Linked DNA regions of Homo sapiens. The protein of the gene in region 1 purifies or fractionates together with the protein of each later gene. This does not show direct contact. Each region holds a gene or a part of one and is shown on either strand. Other genes may lie near its edges.

Region 1 (3,500 bases):
AGACACAGGTGAGAAGGGGGAAAAAAAGAAGAAAGGTGAGGGTGTGCCGGCCATCAAGGGCTTGTTCTGTGACTCTCAGTGCCTTCCTTAACCTCTGTGAGCTTTGGTCTCCTCTGGAAAATGGTGCTCATATTTCCTGTTTGTCCCCCTGCCTATCGACACCACAAGGAGGCTTATCTCAGCCCTGGGATGTGCCCCATGGGGCCACTACAATTGCTATCCTCATTGAACTGGACACAGGCAGCCTCTACCCCAAATCTTGCTGAGTTGAAGATAGGGGTTAAGAGGAGAAGCCAAGCCACTGGCCTGCTTTGAGCCCTAGCTCTGCCATTCCCATGCTGTGTGACCTTGATCAAGTGGCTTAACCTCTCTGAACTTCGGTTTCCCCATGTGTACAACAGAGACCTTTAGTGATGATTCTCTGAGACAACTCCTCCCTCCTTTTCCAGGAAGCCCTCCCTGCTGTCAAGTCAAGTCGGGGAGGACATGGGGCTTACTTCTTGTAGAGCAGGATAGCAATGACAATGCAGATTATGAAGACCACGGCCAGCACAGGCCCGATCACCCAGATAAGCCCCTCCTCGCCATCCACGATGGGCTGGGGGTCCGGGTTATCCAGCTGGAAGGGGTCTGAGAAGGGACTGGCTGCAAAGGTCTGCAGGGAAAGGAGGGGGGTCTCCATCAGTGTCCACCCTCCTTGTAGTGGCCAGATGGGTCTTTCTCAAACATGAACCTACGTTTCTCCCCCGCTCTAGATCCTCCTATATTCCTAGAACCTTGACCCTGGTGGCCTATGTGACCTGGTCCCTGCCAATCTTTGCTCTCCCCATTCCCTTCTCTGCTCCAGCCACTCTCCTTTCTGTACCTCCAGACCTTTGCACATGCAAATCCTGGGATGCTTTTTCTTTGTTGAACTCCTACTCACCCCTCAACGCCCCAGCTCCAAGGTCTCTTCCTCTAAGAAACCTTCGTTTCAGGATCCCTCCGCTCCCAAGTCTTCCCCTCTGCCCAGCTCTGACCACAGGGAGCTGCCTGTGACTGACCACAGAGGTCAGGGCCCTGGGGAATGGGGTCTGCCTCATTCAGAGGTGTGTCTGGATGTGGGCGGACACCATTCAGGACTTACAGGCTCGCTCTTCTGAAGCACGGCAAGCACGAAGAGGACATAGCGGTGGCCGGGCTCCAGGCCCCGGTTATCGAAGCCGCCATACTGCTTCTGGTCGCCGGGATGGAACGTGGGTGGCAGCACAGAGAAGCGAGCTGCAATATAGGGCCGGGGCACCTCCAGCTGACGCGAGTGCCGCAGGCTGCGCCTCTGTAGCCGTGAGATGTCCTGGATGAGCTGCGGGAACAGAGTCATGGGTGGCTCAGAGCTCAGCTGGGAGCAACAGAGCACGTGAAAACTGGAATGCATCTGGGCCCTGCGGGTTGGGCCCCAGGCCCTCACCTCTTCCAGATCCATGTCCTCTGGGCTACCCAGCGGGGTCAGGAATTGGCCTCCACGAGACTTGCGCAGTGGCACCATCACAATGAAATAGCTCCTGTAGGGAGATGGGAAAGAGTCAGAGGGGCTGTCGATAGGGATGACCAAGGGATGCTTCATGGGGGCAAACGGGGGAAGCCGTTTCTCTGAGTCTTCCCTTCTGTTCATACAATGAGCCTATTCCCCTATGCCCCATCCACAAACGCCACAGTTGCTGACTCAGGCCTCCAGGCCTTGGATGATGCTGTACTTTCTGCGTAGAAGGCTTACTTCATGTAATGCTCATTGTTAAACTCCTATACATCCTTCAAAGCTCCAGCTTCAATGCCCACATAACCTTGTAGCCCTTAAATCTTCTCTGCCTCTGAGGCAGAGTGCTCCTCTCCCCACTGGGGACTCTCAGCTTTGCCTCCCCACTAGTTGGGAAGCCCAGAACCAAATCCTTTCAGGGGCCCTAGTAATACCCAGTGGAGGGTCAGGCATATGGGGTATCAGGAAATGCTAGAAGAGCAGACACAGGACACATTTAGTGACAATGACCCATGAGAAGCATTGAATCTTGGATGACCCCATGAACTAGGGCTGATAGGGTCTGTGTTTCATAGGCAAGGAAATTGAGGCACAGAGAGGGCACGTGGCTTGCCCCAGCCATATAGTAGGCTGATGGGGGTGACAAGGAACCCGGAGCATGGGGGTGAGCATACTGGACAGGCACGGGGCTCTGGCCGTCAGGAAGATACACCATGATGAAGCCGTCAGCATCAGGCTTGGGGGCGACGCTGGGCTTGCCGTTGAGCAGGTTGAAGGCAGTCCAGGCGGTGACCGTCTGCTGGAGGCCGCCCAGGCTGCTGCCGCGATTGGTCAGCACAAAGTTGTAGAAGGTGTGGGGCTTGAGGTGCGTGATGAGCTTCTTGGTGGTACGGCCATCCACATCCAGTGTGAGCCCATTGTACTGGATCTGCGGACCAGGGCTAGCTCAGCAGGGCCTGGTGGGCTCATGCCCATGGACTGAGCCCCAGCTCCAGGATGAGTCCCCCACCCTGACTGAGCCCTGATCCCACTGAATCCTGCCCTAGGCAGAAATCTAACACTGACTGATCCCTGATCCCAGGCTGAGTCCCCAACTCTGACTGAGCCCCAACCTCACTGAACCCTGACCCCAGACTGTGCCTAAATTCCAGCTGAGTCCTGATCCTAGGTAGAAGCCCACTTTGACTGAGCCCTGATCCCATGCTGAATTCCCAGTCCCGACTGAGCCCCAATCCCACTGAACCCTGAACCCAGACTGATCCTGAATTCCAGCTGAGCGCTGACCCTAGGTGGAAACCCACCTCTGAGACCTGATCCTAGACTGATTCCTGATCTCAGACTGAACCTCAATCCCAGGCTGACCCCCGATCCCAGACTTGGCACCAACTCCAGACTAAACTCTGACCTCAGGCTAAGTACCAACTCTGAGTCCCAATCCTGATTATGCCTCAGTCCCAGCTAAGCCATGATCTAAGGCTGAGCCCCAACTCTGATTTCCAATATGGACTAAATCTTAATCCCAGACTGAACCTCAATCCCAGCTAAGCCACAATCCAAGGCTGAGCCCAACATTGATCCCCAATATTGACTGAACCTCAGTTCCAGCTGATCTCCAATCCTAGGCTGGGCCCCAAGTCTGATTCCCAGTATTGACTAAGCCTCAATCCTAGCTGAGACCCATCTCTGACTGAGCCCTGATCCCTCACTTCACACCAACTCCAAACTGAGCCTTAAGCCCTGCTGAACTACAACCCCTGACCCTGCCTGCCTGCCTGCCTGCTGGCTGGGCAGTCGCACCTTGTAGGGTGTGGGTGAGTTGTAGTTGTCAGGGAACTCCCAGCTGAGCAGAACTGATGTCTTCATGATCATTTTCACCTTGAAGTTCTTGGGCGAGACTGCCGGGGAGGCGGCCGAGCAGGGAGAGAGCAGAAGAGAGGCCCCATGAGTGCCTGGCACTGGGTGGCGTGAAGCGGGGTGGGGTGGGGCG
Region 2 (3,978 bases), on another chromosome or scaffold:
CTCCTTGTAGCAGCTTAGTCCTGGTCCTGCACCTTAGGGCCCTCTCTTGCGCCTTCACAGGCACCAGGTGCCCCTCCCCGCCCTCCCCATCATCACACAGAGACTACATCCTCAATGCATATCCACCCCGGAGTAGGAGCTCAGAGAACTGGCAAAATGCAAAGTCCATGCCACCCTCCTAAGGAACTCTGCCGGCCCAGGGGTCTCATGACACCTTCTTGCCTTGAGGTTCCCCCTCCCACCCCACCTGTTATGCCTGCCTGCCAAGTTCTGCCTGGGGCAGCTCCCAGAGGTTGAGGACCTGGAGGAGACCTGGGTGCTTTGGATCCTCAGAATCCAAAGAACTGGATGCAACCCGAAGCCAGCCCCAGCAGCAGACAAGACTCAGGTAAAGCCCTCGTTCCTCTGTCTGGGTTTGCAGCTTCTGCTAGATGAAGGGGTTGGACTTTGTGCTCTATCAATCTGCCCTTCCTAAACACAAAGGCCAAATGACTGCGCAGTTTTAAAGAAGAGAGGAAACGTTTACTGTGTTGAGCAGACCTTATTTTCATTACAGTACCAGGAAGTTCATTCTCAATTCCCTTCGAACGCAGAGATTCTGCAGACATTTAAAAGCCCAATGCTGTTCCCAAGCAAGAGGCAGCACCTGACAACAATGCTGCATTTAATGGAGCAGGATTACAGTAACATTGGATATTCATAAAGAAGATTTTTAAAGTACACAGTTTCCTTAAAAATTATAACATTTTCCCACCTTTATTTTATTATTACCACGAATAACTGGTTGGTTGGAAAACATGGTACTTGATAATCTTTTGTTGTCAACCTTAAGTTAATGTATTTTGCTTTCTGCTGTTGTTGTTAAGAGACGTTATGCCCATTTCTCTGGAAATCTCAATGGTGACAAGTAAGGCAAGGCATACAATACATTCCTGTCCCACTGCAACCTTCCACAGCTAGCCTCTGCACTGCTGGGTATCTGGGAAAGACTCAGGAGAGGACCTTTTGCTTGCAAATCCTCAAACTCCTGACCTCGGGTGATCCGCCTGCCTTGGCCTCCCAAGGTGCTAGGATTACAGGCGTGAGCCACCACGCCCGGCGCTTGCAAATACCGACCACAGAGTTTAACCTTCATGGGCTCCTTCTAGGAAGCAGGCAGCCACTTGCCACAGACTTTGCAGTTTGTTTTTATAAATTGTCACTGATCAATGACAGCCTGAGGGAATGGGACCCTCTACTCAATTCATTGACTTCCTGCTTCTACTGCCTCCCAGAAGTGTCATTTCATTTCTGTATATAGAGAAATGAAAGACCAAAGAATGAAATGAGAAATCTGTATCCTCTAGGCATTTCAGGTATATACCCTGAAATATCAATAACCACTGAAGTTCATGATGTCTCATTTGCTTGAATTCAATCAGTTAATTACCAAAATACTGATTAAGATCTTTCCCTCACTACCTCAAGGCAGAGAAAACATGAATTTAAAGAAGTTATCTTACCAAACTACACACATGACAAGCTTTATTTGATTAACTCCAATCATCCCACAAAAATGTGCCCATAAAATCAAGTACTTAAAAAACTAATTATTAAAATTACACAACAATGGGACAGGCGCGGTGGTTCACGCCTATAATCCCAGCACTTTGGGGGGCCGATGCGGGTGGATCACTTGAGGTCAGGAGTTCGAGACCACCCTGGCCAACATGGCAAAACCCCGTCTCTACTAAAAATACAAAAATTAGCTAGGCATAGTGGCAGGCACCTGTAATCCCAGCTACTCAGGAGGTTGAGTCAGGAGAATCTCTTGAACCCGGGAGGCAGAGGCTGCAGTGAGCTGAGATTGTGCCACTGCACTCCACTCCAGCCTGAGCAACAGAGCGAGATTCTGTCTCAAAAAAAAAAAAAGCAAAAATTAGCCGGGTGTGGTGGCGCACACCTGTAATCCCAGCTACTCGGAAGGCTGAGGCAGGAGAATCACCTGAACCCAGGAGGCAGAGGTTGCAGTGAGCCAAGGTCACACCATTGTACTCCACCCTGGGCAACAAGAGCAAATCTCTGTCTTGAGGGGGGAAAAAAACCACGCAACAATGGAATACATATATTTAAATAACTGCACATAATACACCCTCCATTTTTGTTACCAAGAGAAAGCTTCCATCAGGTAGCTTTACCAATACATTTCCATTCCCATGAAATGCAATACCACAGTACTAATATTCTATTCAGAAAAAGACTACAATTCCCTTGTAACTCTTTTTCTTTTTCCCTTGTAACTCTGAGTTCTTTCTTTTAATCGTTCAGGCCACATAGGTAAGGCCATTTTAGAAAAGGACTGCTTTCAAGTATCTAAATATACTTCCGGAGGGCGGGGGAGGAAGGGAGTCATTTTACACTTGTCACTCTCAGGGTGATGTCTGACTGTCCAAGTCACGGGGTCAGTAGAGCAGGTTTCCTGGCTAAAGGAAACTCTGGGAGTTCTTTCCTCCCTACCACCTGGGCCAGTCTCTTCCCCCTGTCCCTAGCTCTTGGCCCTCTACTCAGGGACTTGGTCCCCACAATCAGATGAAAACTCATTCAGGCAGAGCCTTGACAAGGTTCAGAACACGAGGGCTTGACCGGACATAGTGGCTCACGCCTGTAATCCCAGCACTTTGGGAGGCCGAGGTGGGCAGATCACCACCTGAGGTCAGGAGTTTGAGATCAGCCTGGCCAACCAACATGGTAAAACCCCATCTCTACTAAAAATACAAAAATTAACCAGGCATGGTGGCAGGCGCCTGTAATCCCAGCTACTCAGGAGGCTGAGGCAGGAGAATTGTTTGAACTTGGGAGGCAGAGGTTGAAGTGAGCCAAGATCGCACCACTGCACTCCAGCCTGGGTGACAGAATGAGACTCTCTTAAAAAAAAACCCACGAGGGCTTAAGGACAGCAGAGCAAATTAAGCTCCATTTATGGAAACTGTTTTAATTTTTTTTTTTTTTTTTTTTTTTTTTTTGAGACGGAGTCTCGCTCTATTGCCAGGCTGGAGTGCAGTGGCATGATCTCGGCTCACTGCAACCTCCACCTCCCGGGTTCAAGTGATTCTCCTGCCTCAGCCTCCCGAGTAGCTGGGACTACAGGTGTGTGCCACCATGCCCAGCTAATTTTTGTATTTTTAGTAGAGACGGGGTTTCACCGTGTTGGCCAGGATGGTCTCTATCTCTTGACCTCATAATCCGCCCGCCTCGGCTTCCCAAAGTGCTGGGATTACAGGTGTAAGCCACTGTGCCTGACCGGAAACTGTTTCTTAACATACATCATGCACGTAATCTTCGCTCTCCCAAGAGGCATTCACCCAAGCAGACAGGCAAGCATCTATGTGTTCAATTCGAAATGCAACAATGACAGATGTACAACTTTACCACTCTTAAAGAAACTAACATGCCATCCATTATTCTCCATGTGGGAAACATTCAGTAAACTTCTAAAACCAAACACAGGACTCTGGCATATCCCCACACCCCCAGCAGCAGGCTGTGACAGGCTTTGATCTCAATCAAATGCCACTGTACACAGAACATAAAAACAGGCTCAGGATGCTGCATGTCACTCTGACATATCACATTATTTCATATTACTCTGTCACTTACTCACAAACAAAAGTCTCCACTATGGCATGATTGAGAGAGAAAATAATTCACTTTATATAAATAACAGCTAAGAACAACATACTGTGAACAGTTTCCAGAGTTTGAACATTCAGCACAATCAATTCTTACTTCTTGGGAAAAAAATATCTTACCTATCTTTTCTGTTACAGTATGCCTTCTTGGAGAAAATATTTTAGTGGTAACATCATTTTCTGGGGCATTTGGTTAATTTTGAAAGATGATTATGCCACATGAACCAAAAAAAAAAAAAAAAACTGGCAGGAGGAGGAGGGTCCTAGGCCATTCTGGAAGCAAGCTGGGTTTTGCATTATTCAGAGTCAA
Region 3 (4,007 bases), on another chromosome or scaffold:
ATGTCTGGGTCCCCACCACCACAAGCAGCAGATATGTGCAGTGGGCTAGAGTGAGGACTAGACTTCACTTTCTTTCTTTCTTTCTTTCTTTCTTTTTTTAAGAGACAGGGTTTGGTTCTGCTGCCCACGCTGGAGTGCAGAGGCATGATCACGGCTCACTGCAGCCTGGAACTCTTGATACTCCTTCTTCAGCCTCCTGGAACAGTTAGGACTACAGGTACATGCCACCATGCCTGGCTTATTTTTCTTTTCTTTTTTTTTTTTTTTTTTTTTTTTTTTTTGTAGAGACAGGGTCTTGCTATGTTGTCCAGGCTGGTCTCCAATTCCTGGCCTCAAGCGATCCTCCCACCTCGGCCTCCCAAAGCACTGGGATACAGGCGTGAGCCACCATGCTCAGCCCAGACTCCACTTTCTATGCCTCCACTAACATAATCCATACATTGGTAAGCAGGCCAGTGACTGTGGAGTCAACGGTCTCAAGAAAAACTTGAGGGAAGCCCAGTCATTTGAATTGTTTCTGGCTAAAACTAGCCTCATATGCTTCTGCCGTGGGTAGAGCTGGTTGCCCACCTGCCCTTTCTCTTTGCCACCTCCATAGTCATCCCCACAAGCCCAGCCCCGACAGAGTCCCCTCCCTCGTCACTTGTGGCATCCTCCATCCTGGGGATCGATGCTACTGCAACACCACCAAAGTTCCACTGTCAACTCGGCCCTCAGCATTGGAGTGCCAGGGACATGCCTCATTACAGCACCAATCAAGTTCAAGTTCAAGGTCCCCATTCCTGCATCCTCTCCCACTCAGCTTTGCAGAAGCTTTAGCTTCCTCCCACTACCATCTCCCCACCCCAAACACTCAGACCTCTTCATCGCAGACTCCCTCTTCCTCACCCTAGCCCAGAGCTCTGGGTCCTGGTCACTGAGCCCCCTTTCTATCTTTACTTAGCCATGGCTCTCACCAGGCGGCTTCTCTCCTGCACGAAGTGCTTCCTAACTCCTGAGGAAAGGGTCCTGTCCTCCAGCTGGGCCTCCTTACAACAGGCCACTCACCCAACTCCCCTTCTTTCAGCCTGTCCTGAGACTCTGATCAATTAGGTACTGTTAATATAGCAGTGCCATTTCTTGAACATTGGGGAGTGGAATCCAACGTTTAAGAGAATGTGCTGAAGTCAGACACAGGGAGTTCAAATTTCAGCTCCCGTTACCATAGTCATCTGTTTCCTCCCTGTAACCTGAGTATAATAGAATCTACCTCCGATTGCTGTGAGGGCTAAACAAGATACACAGTGCCTGGGCTCACGAAAAGCATTCTTATGTTAGCCATCGTTGAGTTCCTGCCATGCACCAAATCACAAACACGTCAGGCAGTAGGCATTCTTTAGTTTACCCGGGAGGGAACTGAAGCTCAGAGGGGTTGAGTAACTTGCCTGTGATCATTACGTAAATGACAAAGGTGGCTTGAAACCCAGGTCCTGCCAGAGATTCCATAGCATTCCTGCTCTGATGTTAATATGCCAAGTAACTCAGCAAAGCAGGCTGGCAGGGCCTCTGCACTGTCTGTGTTTAGCACTCCTACTCCAAACCCAGCACATCACACCACAGAAAGAGAGAGAGCCTTTGTGGTGGGGAATAGTTCCATCAACAGTCCTTGGACTTGACTCTCAGTTGCTGCTCCAGCAATAAGTAAGTTTAGGAGCAAGAATGAAACTCTACAAAGCAGGCTTGCAAATAACTTTCTAGCCCACTTCCCCACCAGGAAGTCTCTGAGTGGTCAAATACAAACACTTGACAGGACAGTCTGCAAGACTGGGCTGGGCAGTTCTGAGGCTGGATTTAAAGGGCTGCAACCTCGCTCAGCCTGTGGGTTCCATTTTTTTCCTGAATCTCTACACCTGGCCCTTCCTCCATTCCATCCGGCCCAAGCCAAAGGTGCCTTCTCCATCAGTGCGTGCCTCAGCAGGTCTCCTCCCAACCCAGACATCATTCCCCAAGCCCGCTTCCCACCTACTCCCACACACGTTCCAACAGATCAGTGAGACCGAGTGCCAAGAAGCCAGACCCAGACTCAACTTTCTGCCACCAGCTCCCCTGCACACTCTCCTAATACCCTAAATCCACCAGGATCAAGCTTCTGAAAAGAAGCCCCTTAAGGGAGCATTAAGTCCCAGGACCCCGCATTTGCAGCAACTCCAAAAAATAATCCCTGAAGAGACTGCAGGTCAATCCACTCTCTGCCCCACCGCCACGTAGGTCCACTTAGGGGAAATCCAGAGAAGATTCACCTCCCTTGACAATTGTCAGCCCCCAGCAACACTCAGATCCCCTGACCCAACATTTCTGTGACTAAGTAGTCCCAGGGTTCTGCACTCCCCAGCAACGTCCCTTCCAGTCCCCAGCACCTCCCCTCCCAAGGACACAGAGGGAAAGCGCTAGCAATGTCTTCTTTCCTATCCCCTGCCCCCATCCTCTTCACATTGCGGCTACACTTCTGAACCCTCGGGAGCATGCAGATGTGTCTAACTTACCCAAAGAGAAAAAGAGACTGAGCCCCGTGAGGCTGAAGGCAGGGCGAGGTAGCCAGGCATCTCTGTGCATTTTCAGAGACTGAGATGTTAGTCGGGTGGGCTACGGGAGAGGGTGATTTGAGGGGGCGAGAACTACAAGGGAGGAATGGTTGGATGCTAAAAAAAAATGCACGGATGTACTTCAAAGACATATACAACATTAAGGAAGCTTTATTTCCATCTCTCTAATATGGCCGGCTTGTATGTTGCTGCTAAAAAGAGAGAGAGAGGGAGTGTGTAAAGGAGAGAGAGAGAGATGGGGGGGAGAGAAAAGGGGGATGGGGTAAATATTGTGGTTGGTGGATTTCAAAAAGCAGGTGGGAGGGCATAAAAAAGTCATTTTGAAAAGAACAAAATCCCAGAAATTTTTACCCTCTAAAACAAGAAATAATACAAACCCTGCTTTTTGACTTCACTGGGATGATTGTTGGATTTTGAAAGCTATTAGAGGAATCCATTTATTTTAAAGATTCTGGAAAGGGAAACACCTTTTATCATTTAAAAACACCCCCAGGCTGACGCAGTGGCTCACACCTGTAATTCCAGCACTTTGGGAGGCCGGATGGATTGCTTGAGTCCAGGAGTTCAAGACCAGCCTGGGCAACATGGCAAAACCCATCTCTACTAAAAATACAAAATTTAGCCAGGCATAATGTCGCATGCCTCTTGTCCCAGCTACTGCACCGCACTCCAGCCTGGGCCCTGCCTCCAGAGGGAAAAAAAAAAAAAAAACCTAAAAAAAAAAAGGAGATGCTTGTTTTTGTGTTATTGAAAAGGGTTCAGGAAAGTGAGTTGGAGAGACTTTCAAGGGGTAATGCTTTCCTCATTCTAGCGTTTCCTCTGAAAACAGAACATGTTGAAGCAGGCTGATAGAAAAATACCCAAGAGATCTTACAATTGAATGTAACACAGGCCTTTGGATAAACCTGATTCAAACAAATCAACAGGAAAGAAAAGTTTTTGAGACAATTGGGAAAAGTTAAATATGAACTACATAGTAGATTGTATTAATGAATCATTCTTAATTTTGTTGGGTCTGATAAAATGTGGTTTTGTCCTTTAACATCTCTATCTGTTAAAGACACACATGGGTGGCCGGGCGGGGTGGCTCACACCTGTAATCCCAGCACTTTGGGAGGCCGAGGCAGGCAGATCACCTGAGGTCAGGAGTTCGAGACCAGCCTCCCTAACATGGTGAAACCCTGTCTCTACTAAAAATACAAAAGTTAGCCGGGTGTGGTGGCGTGTGCCTGTAATCCCAGCTACTTGGGGGGACTGAGGCAGGAGAATTGCTTGAACCTGGGAGGCGGAGGTTGCAGTGAGTCGAGATCACTCCGCTACATCCCAGCCTGGGCCACAGAGTGAGACTCCATCTCAAAAATACATATATATATATTCAACGAAAAAAAGAGATGGGAGAATAGGTGACACGAGACTAGTTGTTTT
Region 4 (3,500 bases), on another chromosome or scaffold:
GCTGATGGAACACAGAACCATTTGGAGAGGCTCTGAGAACACATTTACAAAAATACCAAATCTGAATTAAGCAAAACTTAAGAATACTTTGTTTTGACTACTGGAAAGGAAACAATGACACACACAGGGACCCAGGTGGTTAATGTACTGTACACTATTACTGTAAAGTACAAGACCTCAGCCTCTGAGCTCCTCAGAAACCACGAATTCAGTTGATTACATAGTGCCCTATAGAATACACTTGAAGAGTAAAAGAGCAAATATTTCAGATACTCTTTCAAAGCTTGCCAATGCACTTGGCTTTTGAATTCTTGCTATTGGTCTGCTGTGCAGGAGGGAACTTTACAATGGTTTTTACTCTCCAAGAGGTTTTAAGCCTGCCTCAATTACAATAGAGAAAATGACATGAGCCCTCTTTTAAGTGCTGTAAAAAAATAAACTGCAATTGTAATAGCAAAACAAATTTTCTCAGTTCAGAAATGGTGTAATATGTAAACGTAAAGCTTTGCAGTTAATGCAGGTCCCTTGACTTTTAAGTCAACTTAATTCAAAGACAAATACCATGATTTCTTAGCTATGAAATTGTTATCTCCCACTATAGTTTAAATTAAAAGGCTTTAAGTAAACATTGCAAATTCAACAATGTTCACTTATGAGCTACTTATTTTCATCTGTAGATTCACCTGGTTGTGCAAAAAGATCCCTAAGGCCCTGATTTCATCTCACATTCACTGTTCTATACATGTTTGTGAATTCAAGTATCTCTTCTTTGTGAAGACCATTGACAGAGCTACAAGACGGTGAACAAAACCACAACCCATGTTTAATGTTCATGTTGATGTCTTTTAGTAATTTGGCTAATTTGTAGAAAATTAGTCATGTATTTAAGTTAAAGTGTAGAATAAATGTTCTATAATCAGTGAATGTTGTTTCCATTTGGAAATAATTTGCTGAATTTTTATGTGATTTTCAAATTATGTTACTTCACCAGTTAACAAGAGAGTACGAATGGGCTGTATTACTCTTAGGAAATCCCTTTTGAAAGCATTCTTCCCACTGAAATGTCAGCACAAAGTGTCTTCTTACATTTCGATGCTTTCTTGGAGTATAAGTGACCCATGGCACCAATCCCACATATCTCCAGGAATCTGACACCCTGAAAAATCCTATGAGGTTTCCTAAAATAGGTCCCGCTGGCAAACATTTTACGTCTGAACCTGTACTGATTGAAAGAGGTCTCATTGAATAAGATATAATAAAAACAAAACAAAACAATAGACTTGGGGTGAGGGAGATTAGAGCTAACTTTTATTTAGTATCTAGTAATTCGGCCATGTCACTTTACAGTCTGTTCCTAGCTCTCTCTGTCAGCACAGAAATTAAGGTCCAATTTTTAAAATATCACTATCAATCACAACTCTGACCTAGTATGTATTTTTTGCAATTCTCCTTTTTACAGAATAGAATGGCATATTCAAGATTTTATCAATAGCTTGTTTGATGAGAAATACTCTTGTTACTATTTTGTAAAAGACTTCCTGAAAATAGTTTTTACCTTCCTTTAGAGGTAAAACAACAACAAATCAGAAACAAAGCATTACATATTGATTTAATTTTCCAACTCATTGTGAAAAACAGTGAATTATACAAGTTAATAGAAGTGAATAGTAAAAACAGAATGGGAATTTATCTAGGCTATTGCCAGTCACTGTAAAATAAATTGTAATCTGAATATGTGCTTTGATCAAGTATTTTTTCAAAAACATGGTCTACCATGATTCCCAATTTTCAAACTTCAAAATGTGTCCCAGTACACACATTGATATGCACATACATAAATTTAAAACAAAACTCTTATGAACAACTTATCTTTATACTCTGATACTTTCTATTCTAGCTAATTTAATTTTTTAAATGCTTATTTGGATTCACAAAATTGATTTCATAACCTACTAATGAGTTGCATTTGCGCATAGAAAACATTGCTTTAATCTAAGACTTAAAAACTGTGAGGAGGTGACTTTCCCCTTAATAAGCAGAGAGGTGTTAAAAACATAATTCTCATAAGAATAGAGAGGGAATTTGTGTCAACGTTGTATTAATCACATTAATAAAAATACCAGCAAGAAAATACTAGAGCTAGTTTTAAGAGCATTTGAGGAACTTGCATAGTAAACAGACGAATGACATCTAAAAATAAGTTTGCTGAATTATATTTAAGACTGGTTAACTCCCTGCAGTATAGGGAGCCATAAGACCTCTGGTGGTTAACTCTAGTAAATTATAAAATCAAAACAACTTAATTTCTGCACTTTTAGATACAGAAGGATTCAAACATAGTCCAGTCGGGAGACTGACAAAATATCAGTTATTTTAAGAAAGAAATTTTAGAAAGAATGCTAACTGGATATAGAGTTATTAACCAAGTTTATGCAAAGGCTAAGATATTGCTGTGGTATCACAGAAACAGCAATGTTAGGAAGTAGCTACCACCCCTACAACTTACAGGGCTGAGGGAACGAAAGGAAGATCATTAAGACTTAAAAGCTTGGAGGAGAAGCTTTGTGGTGATGAACCTCAAATCTCTCTGGTGCTAGTGCTGGTGTCTCTGAGGAGGGCTTGATGAGATCAAATGTTGGATATACTGCAAATGTTGGAAATACTACAAAGAGGCAGCACCTGCTGCTGTGGGAATAAATTGATATAGCCAGAATGAAGACATGCCATTAGGATAAATTCCTGGAGGAGGAAGAAACAAAACAGGAAACCAACAATGGGAGCAATTCCCTCTCCCTGCCAAGTCTTGCCATCTCCCTCCATTGGCAAAGCCTAACAGGAAACCACAAATAAAACAGATATGTGGTTTGCAAAGTCCAAACCTCAGCATCCTAAAAGCAACCACAGAAGGGAACTTAGAGCTGAGAGTCAATAGTTTAAAACCTGCCACAACATCTAACCTTACAGGGCAATGGAGCCTTTGCACTTTTCTCATCTGTGGATTGTTCATCAAGAGTGTCAAATTGTAACTCGCAAGTATGAGAAATATTCTAGCATGAGAACAACAAGTAAGCAAGTATCATTTGCTTTTTCCTAAATTTGGAATATATTTATCTTTATCAGAAATTTATGGCTTAATTAAAAGCTCCACCAAAATTCAAAATTATTATAACTGATATTTTCTGCTTTTTATATTAAATGAATTTCTGCAGACCATTATTCAGGTCTGTTACGCTAACATTAGACACATATTTGGCTTGTTACCTTGAAAACCAATAATAACATTACATATTATGAACATAAAGATGTGCCTTCTCCCATGATTCCAGAGTTCTTTGGTCCAGTATTGATATGTGATAGAGTGTTAGAATTAATCTATAGGAAATTGTGATTATTTTTTAAAACTAAATAAAAGTTACACATGATGATAGTAAAGATTTCAATTGTGTATAGGTATCAAATAAAAAGTTACATATATGTTTATATATATAAATAAAAGTGTA

Evidence for each region. The genes of interacting proteins can lie anywhere in the genome.
Region 2: the proteins of PTPRS (region 1) and UGGT1 purify together in Homo sapiens (affinity purification with mass spectrometry, with the first as the bait; one large-scale study listed by BioGRID). This does not show direct contact.
Region 3: the proteins of PTPRS (region 1) and SCN2B purify together in Homo sapiens (co-immunoprecipitation; one large-scale study listed by IntAct). This does not show direct contact.
Region 4: the proteins of PTPRS (region 1) and LRRTM4 purify together in Homo sapiens (affinity purification with western blotting, with the first as the bait; one study listed by BioGRID). This does not show direct contact.

What each region holds. Positions count from the first base shown.
Region 1 is NC_000019.10:5,218,813-5,222,312, forward strand, and holds part of PTPRS (receptor-type tyrosine-protein phosphatase S isoform 1 precursor), read right to left. Parts: intron 3,409-3,500; coding exon 3,311-3,408; intron 2,442-3,310; coding exon 2,188-2,441; intron 1,542-2,187; coding exon 1,448-1,541; intron 1,343-1,447; coding exon 1,127-1,342; intron 656-1,126; coding exon 498-655; intron 1-497. UniProt on the Homo sapiens protein: Cell surface receptor that binds to glycosaminoglycans, including chondroitin sulfate proteoglycans and heparan sulfate proteoglycan.
Region 2 is NC_000002.12:128,192,200-128,196,177, reverse strand, and holds the end of UGGT1 (UDP-glucose:glycoprotein glucosyltransferase 1 precursor), read right to left. Parts: 3' UTR 501-3,978; downstream 1-500. UniProt on the Homo sapiens protein: Recognizes glycoproteins with minor folding defects. Reglucosylates single N-glycans near the misfolded part of the protein, thus providing quality control for protein folding in the endoplasmic reticulum.
Region 3 is NC_000011.10:118,173,840-118,177,846, forward strand, and holds the start of SCN2B (sodium channel regulatory subunit beta-2 precursor), read right to left. Parts: upstream 2,801-4,007; 5' UTR 2,593-2,800; coding exon 2,523-2,592; intron 1-2,522. UniProt on the Homo sapiens protein: Regulatory subunit of multiple voltage-gated sodium (Nav) channels directly mediating the depolarization of excitable membranes.
Region 4 is NC_000002.12:76,749,377-76,752,876, reverse strand, and holds part of LRRTM4 (leucine-rich repeat transmembrane neuronal protein 4 isoform a precursor), read left to right. Parts: intron 1-3,500. UniProt on the Homo sapiens protein: May play a role in the development and maintenance of the vertebrate nervous system. Exhibits strong synaptogenic activity, restricted to excitatory presynaptic differentiation.